7 separate regions of the Homo sapiens genome follow, and all the other regions are linked to region 7. The links come from fine-mapping of genetic effects on gene expression. A gene starts in region 7. Each other region holds a variant in brackets. All regions are shown on one strand. Distances are from middle to middle. Region 1 overlaps CLYBL (citramalyl-CoA lyase). Region 2 overlaps CLYBL (citramalyl-CoA lyase). Region 3 overlaps CLYBL (citramalyl-CoA lyase). Region 4 overlaps CLYBL (citramalyl-CoA lyase). Region 5 overlaps CLYBL (citramalyl-CoA lyase). Region 6 overlaps CLYBL (citramalyl-CoA lyase). Region 7 holds the start of CLYBL (citramalyl-CoA lyase).

What was found.
Region 1: its variant is fine-mapped to the expression of CLYBL in left ventricle (GTEx, PIP above 0.99).
Region 2: its variant is fine-mapped to the expression of CLYBL in thyroid (GTEx, PIP above 0.99).
Region 3: its variant is fine-mapped to the expression of CLYBL in whole blood (TOPMed, PIP above 0.99). The same link has a PIP of 0.9 or more in skeletal muscle.
Region 4: its variant is fine-mapped to the expression of CLYBL in whole blood (TOPMed, PIP above 0.99).
Region 5: its variant is fine-mapped to the expression of CLYBL in monocytes after interferon gamma (Fairfax 2014, PIP 0.95).
Region 6: its variant is fine-mapped to the expression of CLYBL in whole blood (TOPMed, PIP above 0.99).

What each region holds. Positions count from the first base shown.
Region 1 is chr13:99,861,694-99,865,760 of GRCh38, forward strand. It overlaps CLYBL (citramalyl-CoA lyase), which reads left to right. Exons shown (of 9, transcript NM_206808.5): 4 at 1,298-1,399; 5 at 3,125-3,218. All of the region lies in intron 1 of CLYBL-AS3 (CLYBL antisense RNA 3), which reads right to left. Among named protein-coding and RNA genes, the nearest start is that of CLYBL-AS3, 93 kb to the right of the region's middle. The variant TTCTTTTCTATCAAATG/T (reference allele first, on the strand shown) is at 1,762.
Region 2 is chr13:99,647,641-99,651,707 of GRCh38, forward strand. The region is part of intron 1 of CLYBL (citramalyl-CoA lyase); the gene reads left to right. Among named protein-coding and RNA genes, the nearest start is that of MIR4306, 6.6 kb to the left of the region's middle. The variant A/C (reference allele first, on the strand shown) is at 2,429.
Region 3 is chr13:99,890,859-99,894,925 of GRCh38, forward strand. It overlaps CLYBL (citramalyl-CoA lyase), which reads left to right. Exons shown (of 9, transcript NM_206808.5): 8 at 460-579; 9 at 1,585-1,712. The coding sequence ends at 555. All of the region lies in intron 1 of CLYBL-AS3 (CLYBL antisense RNA 3), which reads right to left. Among named protein-coding and RNA genes, the nearest start is that of CLYBL-AS3, 64 kb to the right of the region's middle. RefSeq lists enhancers at 1,236-1,790, 1,791-2,344, 2,345-2,898. The variant A/G (reference allele first, on the strand shown) is at 2,196.
Region 4 is chr13:99,655,495-99,659,561 of GRCh38, forward strand. The region is part of intron 1 of CLYBL (citramalyl-CoA lyase); the gene reads left to right. Among named protein-coding and RNA genes, the nearest start is that of MIR4306, 14 kb to the left of the region's middle. RefSeq lists enhancers at 1-818, 2,719-2,808, 2,819-2,868, 3,749-4,067. The variant G/C (reference allele first, on the strand shown) is at 2,467.
Region 5 is chr13:99,829,475-99,833,541 of GRCh38, forward strand. The region is part of intron 2 of CLYBL (citramalyl-CoA lyase); the gene reads left to right. The region is part of intron 1 of CLYBL-AS3 (CLYBL antisense RNA 3); the gene reads right to left. Among named protein-coding and RNA genes, the nearest start is that of CLYBL-AS1, 100 kb to the left of the region's middle. The variant A/G (reference allele first, on the strand shown) is at 1,984.
Region 6 is chr13:99,633,309-99,637,375 of GRCh38, forward strand. The region is part of intron 1 of CLYBL (citramalyl-CoA lyase); the gene reads left to right. Among named protein-coding and RNA genes, the nearest start is that of MIR4306, 7.7 kb to the right of the region's middle. The variant T/C (reference allele first, on the strand shown) is at 1,989.
Region 7 is chr13:99,605,018-99,609,084 of GRCh38, forward strand. It overlaps CLYBL (citramalyl-CoA lyase), which reads left to right and starts at 1,673. Exons shown (of 9, transcript NM_206808.5): 1 at 1,673-1,740. The coding sequence starts at 1,679. It overlaps LOC105370332 (a long non-coding RNA gene), which reads right to left and starts at 832. Exons shown (of 3, transcript XR_931674.3): 1 at 745-832. RefSeq lists enhancers at 536-1,515, 1,438-1,732 and a silencer at 1,454-2,013.

The DNA.
Region 1 (4,067 bases), 260 kb after region 7:
TTCATTACTGAAAGCTGTGATTTATTTTAGCCTAATTGTAAAGTTACTGCAAATTGCTCAAAAGCTTTTTAAAGATCCCAGTGATTAGATTTTTTAGGGGGGTGGTGCACCGGCAAGGAGGGGGCAGCTAGAAGGGGAAATAACACCTCTAATCCCGCTTCTGGTAAATAGGCTGCCAGCTTTTCAAATGAGTTTCCTTTCTATTAGTCAGAATATTATGCTAAGCCTTAAGCATTAGTTTTTTTATGTTGCCATAGCAGCCTTATTCCTGCAGGGTGGTGACCTGTGATGATTACAGTACAAAGCTTATAGGGTCTTGAAACCCCCTTTGAAGATGAAAAGTCTTTGATGGTTTATATTTATGCAAATCTCTTAGATATGATTTACCCAACTGAGACTGAATGGAGAGATGATTAAAATTCCCTTTTCCTTTGATATCTATTAATGGCTGAATATTCCTTAAATTTAAAATGGATATATATGTTTTCATCTTTATTTACAAAAATACCTTTATCATACCTGTGTTTCTTCTCTATCTATCTCCCCACATCTTATTAGATCTAGATAGACATAATAGATTTACAATTTAGAGTGTGTTTTTTTCCCCCTTTTGAAGAGGGGGAGGAATCTGGGCAAGAGCTTTTGTATGTTTCCAGATGATAGATTTTGGAATTTGGGCTACCCCACTGGCAGCACAGAGCTAGCTGTGAACTGGTCTCATGGAAAAAATTGGCGAGCTTTGGTCTTCAAAGAATTAAACTTCCTTTTTAAGGTCTTCCTAGGTAAGCTAAAAAATTATGAAGAAAAACCTTCTGAACAAAGGGTAATGGTGCTATAATGAATAATATGGACTCCACGTAGAAGGCTGCTGAACAGTTGCACTGATGTCAGTGCTGGGCACGAAACAAAAACAGAATGGCAGGTAGAGGAAGAGTTCATTGTTTTAAGGGCCTACCATTTGCATTTAACGAAGCGAGGGCAAGAGGTCTTAAGTAAATGCGTTTTCAGGGAAAGCGTTTATACTCTCTCCTTCCAGTTCTAACTCCTAGGCCTCAAGTTGCTCCTTTGGGAGAAAAAAATTGTAATGCTTAGGATTTTACTATTTAGTTTGGTGGGAACTTCATTACCTTTTTCTTTGGACTTTCTTCTTATTTTTTTAAAAAAATTCTTTTGTGTGGACGAAAGAGGCTTGGATATTACTTCCTCAGGTCAAAGACTTAAATACTACTTCTGGGTCTACATTTCCGTGATTGTACATTTTTTCCCCACTAATCACCTATGACACTTCTGATTTTAGTTTGCAGACAAATTTTCATTCCACTTAAAAGGCCGAAAACTTGAACAACCAATGAATTTAATCCCTTTTGTGGAAACTGCAATGGGTTTGCTCAATTTTAAGGTAAGGAAGCCATAATACGGTTAATAAGTTAGCATTTTATTTATCACCTAAAGAGAACTTTTGCTTTCAATTTTAACATCTTCTTAAAATGTGTTTCTAGAAAGATTTATAAGCAAAGGAAATGTTGAGCACCATTTGTTATCTGTAATAGTCCAAAAACCAGGTTGCCAGCATCTTAGAAAACAATGAAATCAGTTAGGTAGAAGGAAAAGCTTCCCAGTCCAAAATATTTAAATGAAGCATTTGTATATTCCTAGTAACAATTTTAACTAATCACTGTGTAATTATATGCTTTGAATTATTGCATTTATAGACTAAATGTACATGAAAATTTGTCACCCTTATGAATTAACTTTGAAATG[TTCTTTTCTATCAAATG/T]TCTTTTCAGTGGGAAATGTTCTGCCCTCTCTGTAGCAACATTATCAGTAATGTCTAGCAGAGAAGATTATTGTTTGTAAGTTCATGCACACAAATAATTTGCAGTACAGTTTTTCAGTTTGCCACATTAGAATATCTTCTAATATACATGCGGGAATATTGGCTGAGCCAAGTGTTTTCAGCCGTTGTGTGGTTGCACTAAACTACCGGTCTTAACAAATTCAGAGCTAGCTCGTTTTTTCTCGTTTATCAGGGGGCATTTATATTATTTTCCAAAATATGCCTCTCATTCCACCTGACCTGCGAACATCAATCTAGCACCCCCTTTCAGAGTTCCTAGATTCCCTTCCCCCACCCCAGCCCCCACAGAGGGCAGGAGAAAAGAAATCACTAAAAACAACAGAAAAAACATAGTCGAACTGTACTGGAGAGAGAATGTGTGAGCGGCAACTTTGAGGCCTTGGGATGTGCAGAAGGGGTCGAGTGCAAATGTTTGGGGACCTGCTTCAAACCTTGTCCTGTGAGCAGCTTGTTTACACAACTAACCATACATTCTTCCAGCCAGCCCCAGAATCCTGAGAATATAATCAAAAGCATATCCCTAAGATGCAACCAGATTCATCCAGTGATTTAATTTTAAGCACTGCTTCGCCATTTTATTCCATAATGTACTTAGAAGCACTTACAATGTCTGAAATTAATCAACAGTGTCCCCACCGGTTCCTCGTTTCTTTCCCACCCACGTATATTATTAGCAGGTTATATCTCCACCTTTCAAGATTCACGGTTATGTCTACGACGAATGGTATTTGCCTTGACTTTCATATATAAATGTCGAAGTTGCTTTATGAACACATCTTGGATGACTTGTTGCATTTTTATTTTCCCCTCCGGAGTTGCAGGTTTTTGTGCTGTCTTTAATCCTGAGACCATGTGCTTGATCCTAATGCAAATAATTCAATTAGTTTGATTTTAAAATTCCTTCCTTCTCCCCTGTGGTTTTACGAGAGTCTCTTAAAGCAAAAACGAATTCTGGAAAGATATAAATAACTTATAGTGCAAGCAAAATGAGTTAACTCAAAGTTTCTCCAAAAATGAGATGAACTACAATTTGAACATTATAACTATATTCATATAATCCATTAAACAAAGCAAATATATACAATATACTTATCTTGGATGATATTAAATACCTTTTGAAAGGGGTAAATTTGGGCTGCGTTTTTAGGACTGCTTTCAGCCAAACTGTGTTAAGAGTCAGGTCGTCCTGTTACTGAAATGCACCGTGCCTCTTCCCTCTGACGCACGCGTTTCCGTGAGACTTAGTTCTGTTCTGCTCTTTTACAGGCAGTGTGTGAAGAAACCCTGAAGGTCGGGCCTCAAGTAGGTCTCTTTCTAGATGCAGTCGTTTTTGGAGGAGAAGACTTTCGAGCCAGCATAGGTGTCAAAGACATCTCTCTCTCTCTTTTTCTGTGTGTGTGTGTGTATATGTGTGTATATATTTTTTCTTTGCCCCTCAAGGATGGACATTTACATAACAATGTATATTTGCCAACCATGACAATGGTTTTTCATGACAATGGAATGGACACTACTTCCTGATAATTTAGGGCTCCTCATAGCTGCCCTGCTTCTAGAGCACTGCATTATTACTTCTGTTCATTTATAAAAGACACGAGCAATAGAAAGCCTGTTGCAGCCCCAGGCATGCTCAGGAATATATGGCATCTCCTTTGCTCCTAATAAATATATTATGTGAACAGCCTCACCGTTGCTTCAGTATTTTGTTTTCATATCAGTCTGTGGGCTGTCTAGATTTCTAACGCAAATTTAAGGCAATTTCACATTTGCCTTAATGAATTGTTTTCTACAGAATATGCGGTAGGTAAATATTATTTTAAATGGATCTTAAATTTCTCTTACAATATGTTTCGAACTCTTAGTATTAAATGTGCTGATTTTCACCGATTCTCACCATCCCTTGTGAGCTGCACTTGAGGGGTCTGCATGTTTGACTGGAGACCGTGAAGCATTTAGAAAAGAGGCCGAGGCCACAGAAACCAGCCCCAGTGACCTGAAGACAGGCACTTTCCCTAGGCAGGGAGTGGCATGTTCCAAATGTAAACAGGGACACTTCCCTCCCCTCAGGGTGAAAAAACTGAATTTATTTGAATACGAGTCTTTCCAGGAGACTTGTGTATCCAACGGTTCAGCGGGCTACAGAAGGCATATCGATGCTTTCCAGCCCTCTCAAAACAAGTGCCCTCCCGTCTCCCCAAGTTCTCCATCC
Region 2 (4,067 bases), 43 kb after region 7:
TTTCCACTCGAGTGTTTTTCCAAAGGGCAGAGGGCAAGAAGCATCTTAAGTCCTCTCGAAGCTGAGACACATTTCAACTGGAGATATTAGAAGCAAATTTGGTGCCCAAGACAGGTGCCAGATTTTAATTACAGTTGGCATTTCTGAGCATGCTTTTGGCAGAGGTGGCCATCTTGTTGGAAAAGCCATAGATTTTGACACTAGCAGTATGGGTGCCCAGTTGAGAACGATTGCAAATAATTTCCCTCCTATTTTCATCTTGTTGGTTGTGAGAGAAAACTTCAGTGGCTAATATTTAAACAAGATATTCTCTGTTCAGAGGAAACAGTTCATTGGAATTGTCTTGGTGGCTTGGTGTGTTGGCTCTGGGGGTAATAATTTCTATCTTAAAGTCTTTAAAACCAGTTAAAACAATAAAATAGGATATTTCATTATGAGAAATGAAGTTGGCATGCACCAGGTTTTCCATTAAGTTCCAGGTCACAGACAAATAAAGAAAGTATGTTCGGGGGGGAAAAATCCTTTTTAAAAATAATTAGGGAGCTGTCTGTTTTGTTCACCAGATGGAAAATCCGTAGTTGTGGGTGGTCTGTGTTGGAGAGGGCATCTCACAATTGGCAGGACTATGCCTTTAACTTTTCAAGTCCTCGGACAAAAATCTCAACGCCATGGACTATTCAGAAGGCTCCGAATGTTCATCAGTCCTTCCAGGTCTGCTTTTCTGAATTTTACCAGTTTTCTAACAAGAGTGTGTAAGCAAAATGATTATGGAATGCCGAAATAAATAGTCCATTGTTCGTTGAATTCTGAAACAGCATTCCTGCTAGCCCTGGTTTTTTGTGACTTTTCTTGCTGTCAATACCTTATGATGATAATCTGATTAGTGGAGCTGCCTGCGTTACTATTTAAAGGCCCCTTTTTCTTACATTTCTGTGTTCCAGAGTAGATAGGGCAGCCAGATGTGCTAACAGCATAAGAAATCATCATAAGCTTGTTATTTATTGAAGATGGATATTGCACTGTTATCAGTGTTTAGGGTCTTTTCTACACTTGCTTTGATTCTGGTCAAATTAATTCAATAAGAAAATGTACTTTTCTTACTCCTTTCTTGAACTGATAATAGAATGTTAGCTACCTAGTGTCACTAGTATTTTTTTTATCTACACATCAAGGTATCATTTTTTTCTAGCTCAGTCTTATGTTTTACATGGCTTTACATCTGCAAGTTGGACTTTGAAATGAATATTTTATGTTTGAACATAAGGATATATATATTTTTATATTTCATTCATACATTTAACCCATCCCCAAAATTTTCTTAAAAAACTTAATAATTACAGGAGATGTAAATTAATAAAATCATCTAGGATGCTAAATGCATAAACTTTCAATTGAGTGAAAAAAAGCCCTGGAACGTAAATCATTTTTCTCGGACAGCCAATGTGTTTGGCTTTGGATGTACATCAGATTCTGCCTGTGCATAGTAAAAATGGCAATGATTTATTAGTTCCATCTCCCCCCAGCACAGATGCTGCACAGTCTGTCCCTTTTCTGGGCACTAAACAGTGGGTTTTAAAAAACATAATTTCACTCAAGTTTTCCGCTTGCATTCTGTGTTGTACTATTAATAGCAACCCTTTGTTATTCATGCCAGCTCGCTTCTAGCATAAGACAATGATGTGGGGAAACGGTTTTAACTAAAATACTACTAATTGGCACCCATTTTTCATATACTGGTGCAGGTGCAGTTCTGTGAGGAATAGAAGCACCTCTAAAAATTATGTCATGAAGATAGAAAAGCTAAACAGTTACACAGTTAAGTAGGTGTACCTTTGCAATGTCATTGTTTCTTTGAAAAATCTTACTTATTTGCCGATAAGTTGAAGGGTGGGGAAAATTTGGAATATTGATGGAGGACTTATGTGTTAAATGTTCTATGAGTCCACCAGGCGCTGTGGCTCACGCCTGTAATCCCAGCACTTTGGGAGGCCAAATCACGCAGACTGCTTGAGCCGGGAGCATGAGACCAACCTGGGCAACAGAGCGAAACCCCATCTCTACAAATGATACAAAAATTAGCCACATGTAGTGGTGGGCACCTGTAGTCCCAGCTACTCAGGAGGCTGAGATGGGAGGATCACTTGAGCCCAGAAGTTGGAGTCTGCAGTAAACAGTGATCATGTGCCACTGCACTCCAGCCTGGGCAACAGAGCAACACTTTGTCTCAAAAGAAAAAAAAAAAAGTTATATGATGCTTCATGAAAAAAAAAGAAAGTTTTCAGCCTGAGCAATATAGCAAGACCTCATCCCTACAAAAAATTTTTTAAAAATCAGACTGGTAGGCCAAGCGCAGTGGCTCACACCTGTAATCCCAGCACTTTGGGAGGCCGAGGCGGGCGGATCACGAGGTCAGGAGATAGAGACCATC[A/C]TGGCTAACACGGTGAAACCCCATCTCTACTAAAAATACAAAAAATTAGCTGGGCGTGGTGGCGGGCGCCTATAGTCCCAGCTACTCGGGAGGCTGAGGCAGGAGAATGGCGTGAACCCAGGAGGTGGAGCTTGCAGTGAGCAGAGATTGCGCCACTGCACTCCAGCCTGGGCGACAGAGCCAGACTCCGTCTCAAAAAAAAAATCAGAGTGGTATGGTGGCGCACACCTGTAGTCCCAGCTACTGGGAAGGCTAAGGCAGGAGGATTGCTTGAGCCCAGGAGTTTAAGGCTACGGTGAACTATGGTTGTCCCACCGTACTCCAGCCTGGGTGACAGAATGAGACCCTGTCTCAAAAAAAGAAGTTTTCAAGAGGGGAAGAAATAAGAAGAGTGTTAGAAACCTCAGTTGCCCATCTACTTTCCTCTCCTTGCCCAGGGTGACAGAAACTGTTGCCAAATTCTCACTGGCAGCAACTTGAGTTTTGATTTGGCTCAGGTACATGTGCTCTTCTAGAGAGTAAGGTCAGCACAGAGGCTGCTGGAGGGTGCTGGAGGCTGCCTCCATGGACTCTAGCACCACCTTTCCTCGTCCTGTAGCTGAAATCCTTGGAGTCATTCTTGCCTCCACTAGACCCTTGGATTCTGTGCATCTCCACATGGCTCCCAGCCATTGTGGCTCTTTTTTTCTGGGACTCTCCTCTCTCCTGTCCATCTTCCAGAAGTAGCTTTCTGAACACAGACGTCATTGCGCTCCTCTCCACAAGCAGCAGTCACTCTCAACACTGAGGAATGAAGACCTTACAGTGTTCTTTACACCCTAACCCAAGATTACCTTCCCAGAATCATCTTCCTACCCCATGTCTCTGACCTTCCAATCACATTAAAATTCTCAGGGTGGTGAGATACTCCAGCTCCTTTCTGTCTCTGCCATGGCTCATGCTGCTGCTTCTCCCTACAGAGCCCTCCTCTCATCTTCCTTGAGATCTTGCTGACCAAATATCTTCTCTTCTGATGACTTAGCAGTCACCCACACTGCCGTGGGCCAGCAGACACCCTTCCTCTGCCTTCCAGTAGCTTTGCCCAATGTGATCTCTGCTCTTTGTACCCTGTGCTGTCTCCCATGTTAGATCCAACCACCTAGGTCATAGCGCTACTGCTGGTACCTGATTGCAGGCCCAGCATCTGTCTTGGTGCCAAGCACATGACAAGAACTGAATAAATAGGCCAGGTGAGGTGGCTCACGCCTGTAATCCCAGCACTTGGGGAAGCCAAGGCGAGTGGCCTGACGTCAGGAGTTCTAGACTAGACTGGCCAACATGGCTAAACCCCATCTCTGCTAAAAATACAAAAATTAGCTGGGCGTAGTGGCGCATGCCTGTAATCCCAGCTACTTGGGAGGCTGAGGTGGGAGAATCGCTTGAACCCAGGAGACGGAGGTTGTAGTGAGCCAAGATCACACCACTGCACTCCAGCCTGGGTGACACAGCGAGACCCCGTCTCAAAAAAGAATTGAATAAATATTTTTTGAGTGAAATGGAATTCTGGGTTGTGGCTTTCCATCAGTTAAGATTCTTGGTTGTGGCCAGGTGCAGTGGCTCACGCCTGTAATCCCAACACTTTGGGAGGGAGAGGTGGGTG
Region 3 (4,067 bases), 290 kb after region 7:
ACCTTATCATGTTACCTCTCAATTATGTTACAGCAAGGAGGTAAGATTTTGCCATTAGCCTGATGGTACAATTTTTTAAAACAATAATCAGTTGCCAGAATATATTCTTGCTTTTAAAGTTCTACATAATATTTCAAAAATATATAGGGAAGTATTTAGATTTTCCTTCCACAGCTGTTTTCTGCTTGATTTCAAGAGTTAACTGAACAGTTTGCTGTCTTGTGTCCAATGTGTTTCTCCTCTCCATTAAAATGCTGAAGATTTTTATTTTTTTCCCCTCTTTAGGGGGAAAAAAGAAGTGTTTCCTCTGTAATTTACTTTGGCTTTCTCAAAAGTTGGGCGGGAAAGTCAGTATAATTCAGGTGGAATCTAAAATGTTCTTGTTGCACAAGTGTGCACAGAAAGGAAACCTATAATTTCGAGTATTCTTTCAGGAAGTTTGTATTCTCTGTTTTCCAGGGGGCCTTTACTTTCCAAGGGAGTATGATCGACATGCCATTACTGAAGCAGGCCCAGAACACTGTTACGCTTGCCACCTCCATCAAGGAAAAATGATCTGTTAAATGAAGCTGTCATCAGGTGGGCTGAACATATACAGTGGGGTTCTTAAAGACAAACCACAATACTCAAAGCAACTTGTTAGGATGCCAGATTGGGACCTGACTCCATTTACAGTTCATGTTAATCACAATTTTGTTGTTGTTGTCTCACTGGCCAGTTATTCCCCTAAAAAAATGAACGCTTTTCCCTTTGGATCCAAGCTTATGATTTTATCATTTTTAGTGTATTACGAATATGGGCTTATGATTTCACAGGGAGGTAAGATCCTGGGGAAAGATGGGCTGTGAGGCGAAGGTAGGTCTTTAATGAAATGGATCTTTCCCAAATAGACATATTCCCTCCACCCTTCTCATGTTAGTAAATGTTTCCTGCTTGTTCATTTATACAGCTGACACCACAAATAATTTTAAGAAAAGCCAGGCCTTTAAAACATAGTAGCAACATTAAGGGGTCATCTCTATTTCACTAGTAATCTGATAAAACAACAGAGATGGCATCAAAAAAGAATACTAAGTATTATATTGGCTTAAAAAGACACTTTCTGAAAATAAACTTTCGAAACTGGTTACTATTAACCTCCACCCCTAAAACGAAACATCCATCTCCTTGAACCGCTAGACGATGAACACGAAAGCTGTCATCCTGGGTGAATGCTGTGAGTCAACCATTACCGGCAATTAAAAAATAAATGTGCAGAAACACAAGACCATCCATTCTCCCCCTTTATTTTCCCGTTTAACTGTTTGCCATTGAGGCTATTTCCCCCTGGAAATGTATGGCTGGGACAGGACTCCCTCAGTCATAAACTTGTAGCGTCTCAGAAGACACAATGCACCCGAGCTGGTGCATGTGGCCCCTGCGAGATTTGCATCACATTAGAGATGCGGCTGCAGGTCAGATGGGTGGTGTGGTTAACGGGCTTAGTAAAGCTGTTTTGAAGAGGTTAACCCAGCTTGTAGTAAGGGTAAATAAACATAACAACCAGCCATTGTTCCCTATTCAGCATGTACTCTTATATTGAAGGCTAAAGGGTATTGAAGCTGCAGAGGGATCAACTTGTGCTTGCCAGAGGACGCCAATGAAGTTTGAAACACCAACAATCAGAGATTTTGTTTCTGTTCCTCATTAAATCATGAGCTTTTGTGCCGAGACTCTGGACGACTGTTCCTTAAGAAATTAACAGAATGGGAAGTTTTAAACTCTACACCAACCTTTTCATGACCTACACAGCAGCAACGCTGCTACTCTTAGACAAACACCGCGGGGAAGGCTGTTCTGTTTATTTAAATTTGTAAATAGAAAACAGTTGTTTTTTACTTTCATTTTTCACCTCCTCCTACGCCCTTTTGGATTATTTCCTCTGCGGCCCCTAGCATGAGCCCCAACCAGGCCTCCCCTTTTCCCCACTTCTCTCAATTCCCACAGGAAGCCCGAGAGGTGAGGAGCTGAGGTTAGACACCAGGAGAGGCACCATCACACAAAAGCGCGGCCGCAGAGTCCCACCGCCACCAGGCGACCCCCACCCAGAGAGGGACAGACATGCGGGGAGCCAGCACCGGGCAAGATGGCTCTGGGGATCCTCATTCTGTGAAGACACCAACTCATTTCTCAAACACAGGATCCAGGAGACAGAT[A/G]GCTCCTAAATGGAGATGGCACATGCTCCGTGGGGTCCCTCATAGAGGAGTGCCACCCTCCACACTGGCCACGCTGGGCTGCCCCAGAGCGGCCAGAAAGGAAGGTGGGAGCTAGCCCCATCCTCACTCAGAGGCCGGAAGGAGGAAGATGGCATCTCGCCAACTTCAGAGCCGAATGGCCTCTAGCCACACTGCTTCCAGACCCCAGACGGGGCAGCAGCAGCAGTTCCCAGAGGAGCACCCATTGTTGCAGCTAGGACCCACCAAGGATGGGACTCCTGGAGTCAGGTGCACACCAGGTAACCCAGGACCACGCTGTGCACCCCCAGTCTGCCCCTCTGCTCAGAACACAGAGGGATGGGAGGATGGCTTGGCAGTGGGAAGGCAAAAGAAGGCCTCTCTCACTCTGCCCCTGCCATACGCACCCGCTGAGGGTGTTAGAAGCAGTGGAGGCAGAGCTGGCCCTAAGCAAAAGAAGAAAATAAACCTCACCTTGTCCTTCCTATGGGCAGCCCTCACCCCAATCTAACTAACCTTCCCATCCTCCAGCCTAATCCAAAGAAGCCCTTGGCTTGAGGGGATGAAGGGCTTGCGTTCTAGTCTCCACCCCAGCCCCACAGGCAGCCAGCCAGCCAGCCCCACACAGAGGGGCCTCCTCAAGGCCTCACTGGGAGCCTCCTGTCCCCAGCCAAGGAGCCCTACAGACCTGGGGAAAAGCAGGCCCCTCCGCAAGGCCCCTGGGTGGTGCGGAGGCCGGACCGGCTAGGCCTCCCGCTGCTGGCCACTCCCAGGCCACGGGTTCCTAGGTCCCAACCACATTGGACTGCTCGCCACGCCACTGCCCTCATCCCAAACTGCTTTGTTCAAACAAAACCACCTTGTTTCAGTCTCCCCAAATGTCCAGTTCATTATCTTCCTCATAACCCATGGTCCCTATTAGGGTAGGATCATGAGACTAAGACCTATGAGAGCCACAAATCTGGACCAAAGTCCCATTCCCTGAACAGAGACCCAAACGACGAGGGTCCCAGAAGAGAGTTCAGTCCTGATCAGAAACCCATGGTGCCTTAGTCCTTGAAGAACAAAACTCTAGGAAGAAGATGCTGGAAGGCAAAGGGTATTCCCCCTCTTTCCCCACCCGCGTCTCTGTGGTGCCATGGGTGGGCCCAGGTACCCTGGGAAAGGTGGGAGAGCAGTCAAGGGTGGGTGTGTGATCTCCACTGGGCTCACTGGGCACCCCCGACACGGGGAAGTGAGAGCTGCCCGACTCCTGAGCCAGGCGTGGGTGACAGGAAGAGGACCTTGCAGCTAATCTGATTCATTAGAAACCATACCTGTTTATGTTTTGTGTAGCTCATCACAAGCCGCTTAGCCATATCACCCCCGTTATTAATTCTTGGGGTCTAAATTATGGGTAACACTATTAAAACATTATCAGAACTAATGAGAAACAATTACTTAGAAAATGAGCCGGGACAAGACTGAGTTGGGAACATCAGTGGTGATCACTGTAGATTAGTTTAATAAATCATCAGGTGCAAGGCAAGACTGACTGTATGTATGCAAAGCCCCGTCACGGGAAAATGAAATTGAGATTTTTTTTTTTTGCATAATTTTTTCATTAATCTCAATAGGACCCGTGTGGTGTAGATTGCTTTATTCCCCTAATACCTTGCCTGAGGCGGGGGGGGGGGGGGGTGCCCAATAATGTCTTCATTGTTTTACTGAGGTCTTAATGACAATCTGTGACAACCTCATTTTAATGTATAGAGGATTATATCAATACAGTCATGTTTTATTGAAATGGTGAAGGGAACTCCAGTCAGAGTCAGGCAGTGTCTGTGAGCACAAGTTAGGAAGTTTCTCGGCATC
Region 4 (4,067 bases), 50 kb after region 7:
AGTCAGTGGGCTCTGGCCTTTCTCCCAGGCTGTGTTGCCACCTTGGTGGCTGGAGGGGCGCTACTAGGGGGTGTGCTTGGCAGAGCCTGGGGTGGCGTCCTCTTTCATCCCACTAAATAACACATTGGTGGCTTGATCTGCCATGAAGCTGACAATCAGAGCAAGTATTTGAAGCCTGGGAAGCTGTGTGGGCCTTGCTTGTGGGACCTGGTGTCAGCTGATGACGTGGCCCTGTCTGGGTGCCCGTGAGTCAGATGGCAGGGATGGCCTGACATCATGAACACTAGCTCCACCTACGTCACATTGGACTTGACTCTTTACAGAGCACCTAGGAAGAGATATTGATGAGTGAACCATTGCCCAGTCATCGAGTTAATTATTTCCCCCCAGAAAGGTTAACATACTGAGGACAGAGAGGGCATGTGTAGGCGGCAGGGCGCACTTTTCATTTAGTCTGGTTCGCAGGTGCGGTCAAGACGATTCCTTATTGTCTTGGAGCCAGCCCTTTTAAGCCTTCCTGCACAGCTCTGTGACAGTCTCGCGGGGAGACCTGTGAGGCCACTTTCCTTTTTTCCAGACCCACCCCCACCTTTGAGATTATCACTCTTCCTGCTTTGTTTTCTGAGGCTTTTTGGCTTTTTAGTTTATTTGTAATTAGAGCAGAAAAGGTACAGTAATCGGATAGAAGGGTTGGGAGTGATAGAATGAGCCAGGATGCGGTGGAGAAATGGGGTGGAGAACCCCCAGACCTTAGGGTGGCGTGTTTGTCAGGGAGTAGACCAGGGTGCAGTTCTAGGCAGACCACTAGATGGCACTCACACATTGGTGTTCAGTCGGGTCCACGGCACTTTCCACTTTGGGCTTCTGTAAAATCTCCCCATGAACTAGCCAAAGCTTTGTATCTGTCATCCCGCCATTTGTCCCTCTAACCTCTCTTGATCGTCTACAGATAGGTATATATATATGTTCCTCTCTAGTTCATTTTTCTCTTAACATTTAGTGACCTTAAAAACCTGGCAGAAATACCTTCAAAGCCTCCCACCTTGTTAGCTGCATTGCCGCATTTTTACTGTTCTCCTAAGCCAATGTTTACATGGCAGTAAATCCATGTTTAGAGTAGGTAATAGAGAAACCTGTTTCTCTCTCAGTCACTCTGAGGGTATGTTTGATAAAGAAATGGAAATTGAGAGGATGAGTTATTAAAAGGATTAATAGGTAACAAATTTTTTTAAAATTTCCATTCAAAATTATGGGTTGGTAAATTGTAAGATACTTAAAATTAATGAGTTGTTTTATCAAATCATTTTCTGTTGTTAGAGAATTTTCAGCAAGCTGAGATTCAAATGCAAAATGTCTTATTGCATACTGCTGGCTCTAGGAAGGAGGAGGGACAGACAGGAAATCATGGTTGATGTTATCTTTACCAAGGTGCATGTGGTGTGAAAGCAAAACCCCATCTTAAATTCATCATCCGTTCTGATGTTGCACAGAAATGAAAATTAATTTCTATATGTCAACTAAAATGGATTCTGCTCCTGCCTGGTTCAATTCTGTCTTAGCTGCGTGGACATCTTGGGGAGCTGCTCTGATGGTACATGCAGACGTGCTTCATCTGTGCACTTCTTAGCTGAGATAACAGTGCTCCGAGCCCCACTGTTAAGGTTAACCTGTATACTGCAGAAGGACAACAGATGGAAATTCTGGTTTGCAGCCACTGCAGAAAAATAAAAACATGTTCCAAAGGGAAAAGGATCTTGTATTTCTGCGTTTGAACCTTTGATCCGCATTCACATCTGAAGGGAGGGCTAAACCTTTTGGTGGAGACACATGGCTTTGCATCTGTGAAAACACAGCTGTATAGAGCAAAACAAAACTAGTGGAAAATACAATGGTTTTGCTGTGTCAGGCTCACCGCTAATGCTTGAATTCTATATAAATATTGTCTTTTGATAGTTCTTTCAAAAATCTTTCTTGACTTTCCATATAATTGTCCAATAATGTTATTCTTTTAAATTCAGATTTGGGGCTTTTTAGGATTAAGGCACAAATGTCTCTTTTCTTTTAAAAAGGCAGTAAAATAAACAGATTGTAGTTAGATCATAATAACATCTAAATTTTGACCTAATTAGAGGGGGAGATGGGGAAAAAAACTCTTTAAAAGAAGATTAAGGTAAAGTTCTAACTTTATCCTTGATTCTGAATTTTTTTTCTTTTTTGGAAATATTGCATACATTTTATACTGCAAGTTACAATGTGAAGGGCCTTTGAAGCACTCTAAAGAGACTTAGCTGCTTTGTTTTGAGCAATTAAGGTTTGTTATTGAGTGAATTAAGCAGCTCTGCTGTGGCTCATCTGTAAATAGTGGTCTTCAGCGAGTTTCTTGATCCGCTTTTCCCAGGAACAGAAGCCAAGTCGGCTTCCTTAGGAGCTGCTCGCCCTGAGTCTCCATGTTTCCTCGCAGTCCGG[G/C]GCAGAACCCAAGCCCGTGCCTTCCTCGCCCTGCCTTCGGAGTTTCCTGCTATTGACCTGGCGGGGCGCGCCAGCCCTCCCTGCCCGCTGGTGCCGCGGTCCCTCTCGGCTGCAGCAGTGGGGCACAGGGACGTCATGGACAAAAGACGAGGATGCCAGTTCGATGTGCGAGCAGAAGGCCGCCTGCGTGCGCTCTGCAGAGCAACCGGCCCGGTTTCATAAGGGGCCGCCGGCAGGGGACTGCCATGGCGCCCCCTCCTACCCTTTTTGGCACCAGCAGCTTCATCCGCAGGCCCACTCGGGGTGAATAGTGTGGGAGCTCTCAAGAGAAAGAATTTTAGGTTTGTCGATAGTAATCACCACCTTCAGCGCTCCTCCCACTGCTGGAGAGACCGCGGACTGGGTGACAAGTCTTCCAGGCTCCCAGAAAGTTTCTGCTGCAAAGCGCAGGGTCCGCCTCCCACTTCCAGGAGGGACCAGGAGGGAACCATCGCGAAACCCCGAGGCTGCCGGGGACTCTGACTGAGGCCTTTCCTCCTGTGTCCCTCTCCCCCACGCCGGCCTCCCCTCCTTTCAACTCTCTGCGCTTTGAAACCGCGGAGTTGGGGTAGCTAGGCCCTCCAGCCCGGCGACAGGCCTCGGCCACAGGCAGCGGGGCGGGGTGTGGACAGGAACAAGGAGGTGGGGTGGGGAGGAAGCCTCGGGCAGAGCAGGTTCTCTGCGGAGTTTCGGCAGCCGGGTTTATCCATTTTGATTAAAGAAAAGTAAAAAAAATCCCCCAAAACCAAACAACAAAAACCCTCTCCCAACCCCCAACCCGCCTCCACAGCTGCATTTTGTTCCTGGGACTGTTGGTGTCACCAGAGCCTCTTTTTTTATGCAATCCTAGACTCCATTGCAAAGGACTTGTAAAGCCTATTAATTTTTCAGGCAAAACAGATCAAGCCTGCCTTTGATGCTGCTGTTTCCTAATTTAGTATTCAAAGGTAAAGAATCCTACTACCGTCTCTTCACTTTTTACATAATTAAAAGAGATTTTTCCCCCAGGGGCAAAGAACTAGTTGCTTAGTATTTTTTGAAGTGAAAGGTCTAACTTTATATCACATCTGTTTTTATGCTCTTTCCTAAACATAACCAATATTTACTCTTTGCTGGTACTTAGTTGCATGCTATTCACCCTTGCATTTTAATTTCTGACAGAGAGGGGATTAGTATTCCTCTTCTAAATCATCCTCTAAGCTATGTGTGTGTGTGTGTATATATATATATGTATATATATGCGTGTGTGTGTGTATTTCTCCTCTAACAAACTGAGAGTGCAATTTAAAAAACTGTAGAATCAGTGATTGCCCTAACTTGTGCATGACTCTTGATTTCACACAGGAGCATTCAAAAGTTCCGTTAAGTGGGCTTTCACAGGTTTCCATCTGCTGTGTTTAATAGCAAATTGCGACCCTTCAAACCACTTCAAGGCCTTTTGTGTTCTTATCTGTGCATTTCAATACTTGCTGGGGAAGTGCCTTCAGTTTCACTACATATGCAAAAAGCCAGGCTTGAATTTTTTGACACCCCCTTTTCATTTGTTGGTGGAGTCCTGTTTT
Region 5 (4,067 bases), 220 kb after region 7:
CTCTTCCCAAGAGATCTACTTTATTTTATGGGCAATGATGAGTTTTAATAAAAGCAGGGTTGTTGTTGTTGTTGTCATTACTGATCTTGGGTTTCTGGTTTATCTTAGAATTGAGCACTAGAAAGGAAGTGAGGAGAATTATTTTCTAGACCAATAGGTGCTTTTGACTCAAATGATGACATTGGACACTTCTAGGAACCTTTAAAGTAGGGACATTAGCTCCAGTTACGTCACCTTTCCTCTAAGGGTACAGTGAAGGATCAGGAGCTGAACAAGCTGACCTCAGTCCCAATCAACTCCGAAATGTGACAGCTGATTAGAGCCTTGCAGCCTTTCAGGTACTGTTTAATCATTTACTCGCTTGAGTGTATAAGCTCCGTGAGAGCGGAGAGCCTGTCTGCCCATAGCACACACTCAGGAAATATTGTTGAATATGATCATTGGGTTGATGGTCTCACGGGGTGGCACCAAGGGGGCCAGCATGTCAAGCGTAATTCACACCGGAGCAAGCTTTGGGTCACATTCTGAATCATATGTGATGTAGTGAACAAGCTCTCGGATGGGCTTCAGGGGATGTGCGTTCAAGTCCTGGCTCTCCCCCCGGCATCAGAGTGACCTTCAGTCATTTGTTGATCTCTCTCTCGGACTTTTGTCTCCTTGTTTCTAAAATGACTAGATAATTGTAGAGCTTTCTTCAGCCCTAAAATTCTGTGATTCTGAAACTCAGCCAGTCATCTAAAAATGCATTTTCTGCATGATGAAAGATATTTATTAGGCCTAAGTGGAAGAGCCAGCATTCTTGATGAAAAGAATTACTCTATGCACACATCCTAAGGACAGTGGTTTAGATCAGTGCCCTCCTGGTAGAGATGAACAACACAACGGGAAGGACAGGCACTGACGCACATAAAGATGAGGAGGCTGAGCGTGGTTCCAGGCACCACTGCGGTATAGAAAGTGGCACCTAGAGCCAGCCAAGGACATAAAGATGGACTTGGAGACACTGGAGCAGTGTGGGTGCCCCTCAGCCCAGGAATGTTGCAGAGAGGAGTCATATGTGAGATTAGGGTTGCCCCAAGTTACCTCTAAGTTCTGTCCAACTCAACTACTCTGTGAGTCTGTGACAGTCCCTAGCTCTGTGTCCTAGGACACAGTGACACCCCTAGAGATCTTACCAAAGACCTCAAATAGTCCAGGCACTGTTCCTCTTAAGGGATGTAGAGAGGAGAGGGAGAGATGGAAAAGGGAGAACTCACCTTTGTTAACATACTGCTTTCTAATAACTCTTTTAAAGAAGTGTTCATTCCATTGTTCATGGAATATGCTTCCAGTCGTGGATTGCATTGAAAAGATAAGTCCATGTCCTAATCCCTGGGACCTGTGAATGTGACCTTATTTGGAAAAATGGTCTTTGCCGATGAAGTTAAGGATCTCGAGAAAAGACCATCATGGATTATCTGGGTGGGCCCAAAATCCAATGACAAGTGTCTTTTTAAGAGAAATCAGAGACACACAGAGGAGAAGACAGACACAGAAGAGAAGTCAGACACAGAAGAGAAGTCAGACACAGAGGAGAAGACAGACACAGAGGAGAAGGGCACATGAAGGAAGAGGCAGGGGTTGGGTGGCGGCAGCTGCAGGGACTGCCAGCAGCCAGCAGGAGCTGCAGGAGGCAAGGAGGATCCGCTAGAGAGGGACTGCGCCCTGCACACACCTCAAGTCCACATTTCTGGGCTCCAGAACTATGAAAGAATACATTTTTGTTGTTTTAAGCTGCCAATTTTATGGTCATTTGTTATGGTGGCCCTAAGAAACTAATACACCTCAGATATATTATCATTGATACCATTAATCAGGAGCTGCAAGGTCTCTTTTCCTAATTAACATCATGGTTGTTCTTACTAATAATAAGAATAAAAGAACTCTCAGGGAGGCAGGTGGAGGGAGAGCATCAGGATAAATAGCTAATGCATGCTGGGCCTA[A/G]TACCTAGGTGATGGGTTGATAGGTGCGGCAAACCACCTTGGCACATGTTTACCTATGCAACAAACCTGCACATATATCCCGGAACTTAAAATAAAATTTAAAAAATGAACAAATAAATAAATAAATAAAATAACTCTATCTTAAAACACATTAACAATATTATTGAAGAATAATATTAGATCTTTTGAAGTAAGCATTTTTTTTTGCCCGTGTAATAGCTGTCTGTAAATACCCGCTTCTTGAGTGAACCACCATTTTCTTTCTTTTTTTTTTTTTTGTAGAAGGAAACACACGCTACCAGAAAAAAAGGGGCCCCATTTTGATATCCCTCCATCCCTGGCCTTGTTTTGGTAACTTTGTTTCTGTACCAGATCCACACTCAATCAACCTGTCTGGTTTAGGGTATTTTTAGCTTCATAGAGCAATAGTATCAATACAATTCTGCTGTTTTATTATACATTTATCAAACAGTTCACTATCTGGTCTTTTGGCCAGAATTTCTTGGCCTCTTCTCAGAGCTCTGTCTCAATAGATCTTTTGATAACTGTTTTCCAACACAGTCTTCATTTCAATGTTAGAATATGATGTTAATGAATTTACTAGCTTCCAGTCGAGGATGAATAGCTTACAGTGTTTGCGGCAATATTGGATGTATTTATTTCCAAGGGAATGATTTTTAACAGCACATTGTGTTCTTATTTGCTTTTCACAATCCAGTTCCAGCATCTGAGAAACTTTGCTTTGATGGTTGACTCCCATTAGGGAAACACTGAAAACAATTATCCTGTAGTGGTCTCGGTTCTTCCTGGCAGCTTTGCATTTCCATGGTGCGAGACCACTGGGTCGTACCACTTGTTTCTCCCTCCACGTCCTCAAATGATCTCTTAAAAGAACCCACTTTAGACCTCATTGTTACCTTCCCTCTACTTCTTTTTCTTCTTATTGAATTCAATTCAACAACATGTATTAAATACTTACAACCTGGTACCCAGGTAGAAGAAGCCAACGTATAGACAGGGCATGTCATTGGATAGTGATAAGATCTGATGGGGTGAGTATCTAGGCAACTTAGACTGGGTGTGGGGTTGAACCAGCATATTTAAATTTATGTAAAAACTGAGAAACACCCTGAAAAGGACTTTTATTGTTGGACATAATTCTCTAGTCCTGAAGTTATCATTCAAGGGAGTTCAAGAACTCATCCCTTAAGTGGACTGGGCAAGCTGGCCATTTACCACTTGTCACAGTTAGAATTAGGAACTTGGCTTTCATATTATCCATTGGTGTCACAGAGTGGGAGGAAAACATCAGTAATGGATCCATAGGACCACCAGTGGAGGCAAATTGAATTTGGGATATGTTATATCAAATCTGTTAAAGGGAAAAAAAAGAAAGAAAAGGAGGGGAGAGAAGGAAGAAAAGAAAAAATAAAAGAAAAAAACCCAAAAGAATTCATTATATAACCATTATATGTTAATGGTACAGTTTAAGAGATTTTGAAGTATTGTCATATATCATTTCATTAAGTAGTATATACATACATACATACATATATATATATATATATATATATTTTTTTTTTTTTTTTTTTTTTTTTTTTGAGATGGAGTTTCGCTCTTTTTGCCCAGGCTGGAGTACAATGGCACGATCTTAGCTCACTGCAACCTCCACCTCCCAGGTTCAAGCGATTCTCCTGCCTCAGCCTCCCAAGTAGCTGGGATTACAGGCACCTGCCACCACACCTGGCTAATTTTTTGTATTTTTAGTAGAGACGGGGTTTCACCATGTTGGCCAGGATGGTCTCGATCTCTTGACTTCATGATCCAGCTACCTCAGCCTTCCAAAGTGCTGGGATTACAGGCATGAGCCACTGTGCCCGGCCAGTAGTTTATATTTTTATTCCACCAATTCTTATTCTTAAAGGAAAGAAGGATTAAATAAGCCCTAAATGTTATATTACATTAGAATCTTTGAATTGCTGCCATAGCTACATAATGGTGTGGAAAGTAGTAAACCCATTTTTCCCAACTTATGGGAAAGTACAAACTAAAAATGAGTGAATGAATTAATGCATAAATAAGTC
Region 6 (4,067 bases), 28 kb after region 7:
GTGGGCGGATCACTTGAGGTCAGGAGTTTGATACCAGCCTGGGCAACATGGCAAAACCCCGTCTCTACTAAAAATACAAAACTGGGCATGGTGGCACGCATCTGTAATCCCAGCTACTTGGGAGGCTGAGGCACAAAAATCGCTTGAGCCTGGGAGGTGGAGGTTGCAGTGAGCCAAGATGGCACCACTGTACTCCAGCCTGGGTGACAGTGCAGGACTCTGTCTCAAAAAAAAAAAAAAAAATAGCTATGAAAAAGAGCTGAAAGGTTAGTGGTTGCCAGAGGTTGAGGGGAGGAGGGAATGGGAAGTGATTGTTTAATGCATATGGGGTTTCCTTTTGTGTTGATGAAAGTGTTCTTGAGCTAGTGGTGAGGCTTGTACAGCACTGTGAATTTTAAACTTTAAAATGGTGAAAATTGTGAATTTTATGAAAAGAGAGGTGAAAATACATGAACTAAATAGAAATTTTTACCAGTAAGCTCAATAGCAGACAAAGTTAACTGAAAAATAGATCAATCGTATGTACTCAGTTTGAGGAAAAGAAAAAGATTGAAGAAAAGCAAATAGAGCCTCAGAGACCTGTGGGACAGTACCAAGCAGTCTAACATGTATAGTTGGAGTTCCAGAAGCAAAAAAGAGATTAGGGCAGAAAAAATATTTGAGGGGATAATGACCAGAAATGTTCCAAATTCGGTGAAATCCATTAACTCACTGATCCCTTAACAAACACTCAGCAAGATAAATTAAAACACACACATGCACATGAGAGCCACATTGCTGAAATCCAAAAATAAGAAAGTCCTGAAAGCTGCCTGAGAAAAAAAGAAGGTGCACAGAAGGAACAATAATATAACTAACAGCCGACTGCTTATCAGAAACAGTGGAGAGTAGAAGGTAAACGTATTGAAAGACAAAATATCAACCCAGGGTTCTACGTCCAGCAAAACTATCCTTCAAAATTGAAGCCCAAATAAAGACCTTTATAATTAAACAAAAACTGAGAGAATTTGTTGCAAAGAATCTGACTATGAGAAATGCTAAAGGAATTTCTTTAGGCTTAAGGGAAATAACCCCAGATGATAACTTGGATCTATAAAAAGAAATGAACCAGAAATGATGAAGAAAATAATCAGATAGATCCATCTGTGTTGATGTAAACATGTAATAGTAATAATAATAAATATTTATATAGCAATTATTTCAGGAAGGACACGCAAGAAAACTTTAACAGTGATAACCTTCCCCGTGGAAAAGGGGAAGAGATTGAGAGCTTGGAGTATGAAAAAGGAGACTAAATTATTATTTTGTGCTTCTTTTGATCATTTGAATATTTTTTAATGTGGATGTATTACTTATTTTTTTAAATAAATTTTTAAATGTCATGAAATAGCTAGGAAAAATAGAGATACTTGATACAAGATGAGAAAATAATGTTCTGTTTCTCCCTTGTAAGGAATATGACAGAAATCGAGACATTGTAGACTGGGAGTCAGGATTGGGTTTCTTTCCTACTCTGTTAGCAGGACACTGTGTCACGTGACAAAGGCTGTGAAGGAGGTATCAGATCGCGCTCTCTGGCCTTGGGCACCTTCTTTCCATTGCTAGGTCTTCTTCCCCATCCCCAGACGTCCCTGCTCATTCCCGGAGCGGCAGCTCCAGGAAGGCACATCTTGCTCTAAAATGGCCTCCTGAACACTCCTGTTCCCACACACTGTCTGGCTTAATCTTACTCCAAGGCAGGCAGCTGCAGAGGGTGCCAGGGCTGGTTCTGCTCCTGGGTTCCCATCTCGGGTGATCAGGACACCATCGTGTGCTCTGTCACCCAAGCCAGCAGCCTGAGAGTCCGCCTTTTAACTCACCTTGTTAATGACCCCAGGTACGTTTCATTAGGTCTTCGTAATGAAATGTACCTGGGGGTCATTAACAAGGTCAATTGACCCAAATCCTTCTCAAATCTGCCGCCTTTCTCTGTCATGATTTTTATAATC[T/C]GCACCACGCCCCCCACACCCCCAACCTTTTCCAGGATCAAATTGAGACTTCTCCAGTGTTTGCAGAGTGAGGTCCTGTCTTTAGCCCAGGCCTTCCTAGCCTGGCCCCTACCCAGGTCCAACCTTGTTTTCCACATGTGAGGGTCCACCCTCATCTCCCAGTGAGGTCAGGTCTGGCCATTCAGCCTCCCCTTCCACATGTTCAGCCCTCCTGGCTTTGCGCAGCTTATTGCTTTTTCCTGTGTTCCTTCCTTGTCTTCACATAGCAAATCATTCTCACCTCCAGAGATGCTGTGTCCTATGTCCTAGAAGCCTTACCTATTCCCTAGCATGCTGAACTGAGTGGTCCTGTCCCGGCCTCCCATAACTCTTGTTAATGCTCTGTCCTACTCTTGGAGAGACCATGAAGACTGGGGGAAGAGGACAGGGTTTGGAGTTGGACAGATTTGGTCTCAATTCTGGTCTTTCCATTTACTGGCTGTATGAGCTCAGGCAAGTTGTTTAATCTCCCCAGTCTCAGTTTCCTCATCTTTATGGTGACAATACTACTGCTTACTTTGCTGAGACAGATGGACTAAAGATAATATATATAAAGTGCTTGGTGTGGTTCCTATTATAGCTTTATTCTTACAACACTTTTTTAAACATTGTGTTGATTAAACATTTACTTGATTAAATGTTTTTCTCTCCCATTAGACTATACATTCTTTGAGACCAGCAGTGCTTAATGTTTGTAGAATTCAACTTTTAATGAGTTTGAATTTTAACAGAGTACATTTGCTAAGTTAAAAGAGTGATTATATTAACTTTAATTGTGGAATTTCACGTAATGTGAAATTCAAAGCTTTATATATATTTTCAGCAGAGACTCTTAAAATTATGTTTTCGAAATAACAATTTTATCTCCCCAAGCAAAATGCCACCTGCACCTTTACAAACACTTTACCGCAGTTATGTGAACCTTCATTGCTCACCCTTGCTGCAGATCATTAAATGTATGCATAAATAGAATTATTAATGTTTACCAAGGTCTTAAAGTCCTGGTAAGAAAATATTGAGTGGTCAATATAGAAAGGTCACCTGTTAGCTCCTGATGCTTGAAAACAGAGGTGGGACCTGGTGAGCCTGTCTTCAGCTGATGCAGTGCCAGCACATCTGGGCTGGGCAGGGCCTCCAGTGCCTTCTGCACAGGTTCACGTGGCCAACTCTGCTTGGACAGTGGGATCTGCTCCCTGGCAGCTGGGACACCTGCTCCCCACTGTTGAGCCATTCCTCTTGCCAGGGCTGTTTGAGTATCAGCCACTACATTCCTGGCCCCCTCCTTTTAGAGAGAGATCTCTGATTTTAAGAGGCAAGGTTTAAAGTAAGACATTTCATGTGTAGTAGCAGATATTATTAACTTTGTTGTGCACAGTATGCCTTGGATCTTCTTTTCTTGGGTAGGGTACAGATAAAATGATGGTTCTACGAGGGGTAAGTAGGAAAAATTAGTGGTTCTGGATTCTCTCCATGCCTTCACTCCATTATAGTCACAGTGGCAAGATGGAGTATTAGCAAGACAGGTCCTGAGTGTGGTTGCGGTCTAATTTAAACTTTTTTTTTTAGACTTACTCTCTCGCCCAGGTCGGAGTGCAGTGGTGCAGTCTTGGCTCACTGCATCACTGCATCCCCCAGCCAGGCTCAAGCAATTCTCATTTCTCAGCTTCCTGAGTAGCTGGGACTACAGTCATGTGCAACCATGCCTGGCTAATTTTTTTATTTTTAGTAGAGACGGGATTTCGCCATGTTGGCCAGGCTGGTCTTGAACCCCTGGTCTCAAGTGATCTGCCCGCCTCCCAAAGTGCTGGGGTTACAGGCATGAGCCACTGTGTCCAACCTAATTTAAACTTTATCTTTGTAAGTGCCAGGGTAATAGAGGCTACCCAGTTTGCCATTGTGCTCACCCAAAGATGAAAGTGCTAAGGTTGAGTGGAAGAATTCCCAATTATTAAGCCCCTCCTCTCCCTGTGTTGAAAATTCTCCATGAAAACCCATCTCTGGAGGTGTATCAATCAGTGTTATCACTGCCCTAAGCCATTT
Region 7 (4,067 bases):
GAGTGCAGCCCCAGCCTGGGATGCAAAATTTAAGGAGAAGTCTCAGTAATTACTGCACTCCAGCCTGGGCGACAGAGCGAGACTCCATCTCAGAAAAAAAAAAAAAAAAAAAGATAAGTAATATTGGCCTGGCATGGTGGCTCATGCCTGTAAGCCCAGCACTTTGGGAGGCTGACGCGGATGGATCACTTGAGGCCACGAGTTCGAGACCAGCCTAGCCAACATGGTGAAACCCTATCTCTACTAAAAATACAAAACAATTAGTTGGAAGTGGTGGCACTTGCCTGTAGTCCCAGCTACTCAGGAGGCTGAGGGGTGAGAATCACTCAAGCCTAGGAGGTGGAGGTTACAGTGTGTGAGCTGAGATCGTGCCACTGCACTACAGCCTGGGCGACAGAGCAAGACTGTCTCAAAAAAAAAAAAAAAGTAATATTCTAAACTAAAAACCAAGATAATGGAAAAATCCCATTATGAACAAAATATCAAAATTTTAATTAAAGACAGGATTGGTGTTACTGAAATTGCCTTTGCCTCAGGCTTCAGTATGGCTGGACCGGGCACTGGCTGGGACTAAGGTGGTGACAAGAAAGTGACCAAATTGGAGTAGACAGGCGAGGCCTGAGGTGGAGCAGGCGTGGGAGCTGGGGGAGGGCACCAAGGGGTTGAGCAGTCTCCCCTGTTGGTATCGAATATAACAATAATTCTTAGGCTCAGCAGAAGTTTAGCATCCATGTTCCCAGTCACCTGGACTTTTCCAAATCTTGGAACCCCCTCTGGCTGAAAAGGCTTTTGTTTGTTTAAACGGCCACTTTTTGCATCCAAGAGCACAAGTCAGCTTCCACTGGAAGGTTCTGAGAAACGGTTTCAGGTTTAAGTCTAGAGCATGAATGGAACGGAGTCACAGCTGAAAAAGAAACATGCCGAGTGCCAAGGAAAAGACATGGTTAAGGGGTAACATGGGCCCGGGTAGGTGAAGGTCGGCAGGTGGAGGCCGGCTGGATCAGGGAAGGTGAAAGAAGAGGCAGGGGCAGGGCCCAGCCTGTTTTAACGCCTCGGCGTTCTCACCGCTGCAGAACGGCTGCAGGGGGCAGAGTAAAGAGCTGCTGTCAGTTTCCCTGCCCAGAGAGTGCCAACAGCTGCTCTGACCTATTGCAGGCATGTGTGTTCCAGGATGCAGCCTTCCTGCACTTTGACCACTCTAGATTAATTGCTAACCAAGATATGCACATGATGGGGCTCACAAAGTATTAGGCGGTATTTTAACAACAAAAGCTGCGAAGAAATCCCTAGAAATGTTGGCTCTTCTGGCTGGGAAAACGCAGTCTGTCAACAGTTGCCTCAAAAACTCAGAAGCTCAGAGAGTTGGATTCGGTCACCAGAGAGGCCCCTCAAAGAGGCCCCAACCATTCAGATCCTCTGCTCTGTCCCCCATGACAGCGGGGACGAAGGTCCTAAGCCCTGGCCGGGAGGGCAGTTGACCTCGGGACTCGCCGCGGGGCGGAGCGGGTGCTGGGAGGAAGGAGGGCGTGGCTGGCGGGGTGTGGCTGGCGGGACGGGGCGGGGCGAAGACAGAGCGAGGCGGGGCCTGGGACGGGGGGGGGGTCGGTGTCGCCGTGGGGGCGTGGAATGTGGGGTGGGCGTGGCTAAAGGCAAAGGGCGGGGCGCGCGCGTCGGGAAGATGGCGCTACGTCTGCTGCGGAGGGCGGCGCGCGGAGCTGCGGCGGCGGCGCTGCTGAGGCTGTGAGTGCAGGTCCCCGTTCCCCGCCTTCCCGGCCCGGCTCGCCGCGGGTCGGCTCCTGTTGCAGCCCCGCGGGCCGGGCGCGGCCTCCCCAAGCCCTCACGGGAACCCAGCCGGACGGAAGCACCATGCGCCTCCCACGCGCTGGCTCGACCTCGTCCAAGGTCGCTGCCGCCCGCGCCTCCCTTTGGGAGGGCCCTCGTTGCACCCGGAAAATGGGTACACACCTTAGGTCGAATTACCTGGACTCAGCCCCAGGAAACAAAACTGCCTGCCTCCCCCAAATGGCAAACGTGAACGCGCCAGTCTTTGAGAGGCGGCTTGCCTGGTGAAGAACACCTGCGGTTCGTTTAACACAGCGGTTCCCAAACGGTTTGGTCTCAGGACCCGTTTACACGTCTAAAAATAATTTGAGGACCCCCCAAAGCTTTTGCTTATATCTATTGATTTTTGTGCATGAGGAATTAAACCAGAAATTTAAAAAATATTCACTTAATAACAAACCCATTAACTTTTAATACAAATAACACTTTAATGCATAACTTCTCAAAAAAAAAGTGAGAAGATTGGCTCATGGTTTTTATATTTTTGAAAATTTCTTTGGTTTAATAAAGGACAGCTGGAGTCTCATATCAGCTGTTTTGAAGGAAATATTTGAAAGAAATTCTGGGCTCATGCAGATGCAGATATTAGTTGGGAAAGGGAGGACCAAGCAGACCCTCTCAACGGGTCTCAGGGACCCCCTCAGGTGTCTTTGGACCACACTTTGAGAACCGCTGGTCTAGCACTTGCCCATCGCCTAGGTACGTGCACATACATGGTCTCATTTGGTTCCCTTGACCACCATGTGAAGAAGTTGGGTGTCATGTTTATAAAGATGAAAAAACAGGGTCAGAAAGGTTAAGGATTCTCAAAGCCCTATGACCAGTAATGAGAGAGTTTGGTTCAAACACTAAGTGTATGGCTCCTGGTCTGGAACTTCTTTATTTATTTATTTTTATTTTTTGAGACAGAGTCTCGGTCTGTCACCTAGGCTGTAGTACAGTGGTGTAATCTCGGCTTACTGCAACCTCCACCTCCTGGGTTCAAGCGATTCTCATGCCTCAGCCTCCTGAGTGGCTGGCATTACAGGTGTGCACCACCACCCCTGGCTAATTTTTGTATTTTTAGTAGAGACAGAGTTTCGCCATGTTGGCCAGGCTGTTCTCGAACTCCTGACCTCAAGGGGGTCCACCCGGATCAGCCTCCCAAAGTGCTGGGATTACAGGCGTGAGCCACCATGGCCGGCCTGGTGGTCTGGAACTTCTTTTTTTTTTTTTTTTTTTTTTTTTCCGAGATGGAGTTTCGCTTTTGTCGCCCAGGCTGGAGTGCAATGGCGCCATCTCAGCTGACTGCAACCTCCGCCTCCCGGATTCAAGTGATTCTCCTGCCGCAGCCTCCGGAGTAGTTGGGATTACAGGGCGTCCGCCACCATGCCCGGCTAATTTTTGTATTTTTAATAGAGACGAGGTTTCACCATGTTGGCCAGGCTGGTCTGGAGCTCCTGACCTCGGGTGATCCACCTGCCTCGGCCTCCCAAAGTGTTGGGATTAAAGGCGTGAGCCACCGTGCCCGGCCTGGGTCTGAACTTCTTACGTCTTCTTGCACTGTGACTCTTCAGTCACCCATGTCCTATGGGAGGACCCACCTAGTCTTATGCATCCCACTTTCCCATTTCCTCCGCTGCCCCTGGCACAGGGGAGTCACCCCTCGCCCTAGAGGAGCAGCTCAGGCAGTGTATCCAGGCTGGTCCAGAAGGGTCCTTTTCTGGCGCCTTTTGAGGGGGCCAGCGTCTGTGACCTGTTCAGTAGCGGGTCCAGTGAGCGCACACAGTCCCCACGCCAGTACGCTGGGGGTTAACTCAGTGCTCCTCACCCGCCTTAGCACACTGGTCTGTTCTCGACATGTCTACCCGCTGAATATAGGATTCTTGATTGGCATTTTTTTTCCTTTGAGCATTTTAAAGCGTATTATCGCACTGTCTTTTTGCCTCCATTATTCTAATGAGAATTCAGACGTTAATGTTATTAGGGTTCTATGTAAGTGATGAGTCTTTTTTTTTTTTTTTTTTTTTTTTTTTTTGCTTGATTTTCTCTTTGTCTTGGTCTTTCGGTGGTTTTATTATGATGTGTGTAGATCTGTTTGAGTTTATCCTCTTGGAAGTTTATTGAGTTTCTTGGATGTGTATACATCAAATTTGGGAAGTTTTTGGCTATTGTTCTCTCAAAAAAGTCTACTCTCTTATCTCTCTCTTCTCTTTCGGAGGCTCCCATTGCGTATATGTTGGTGT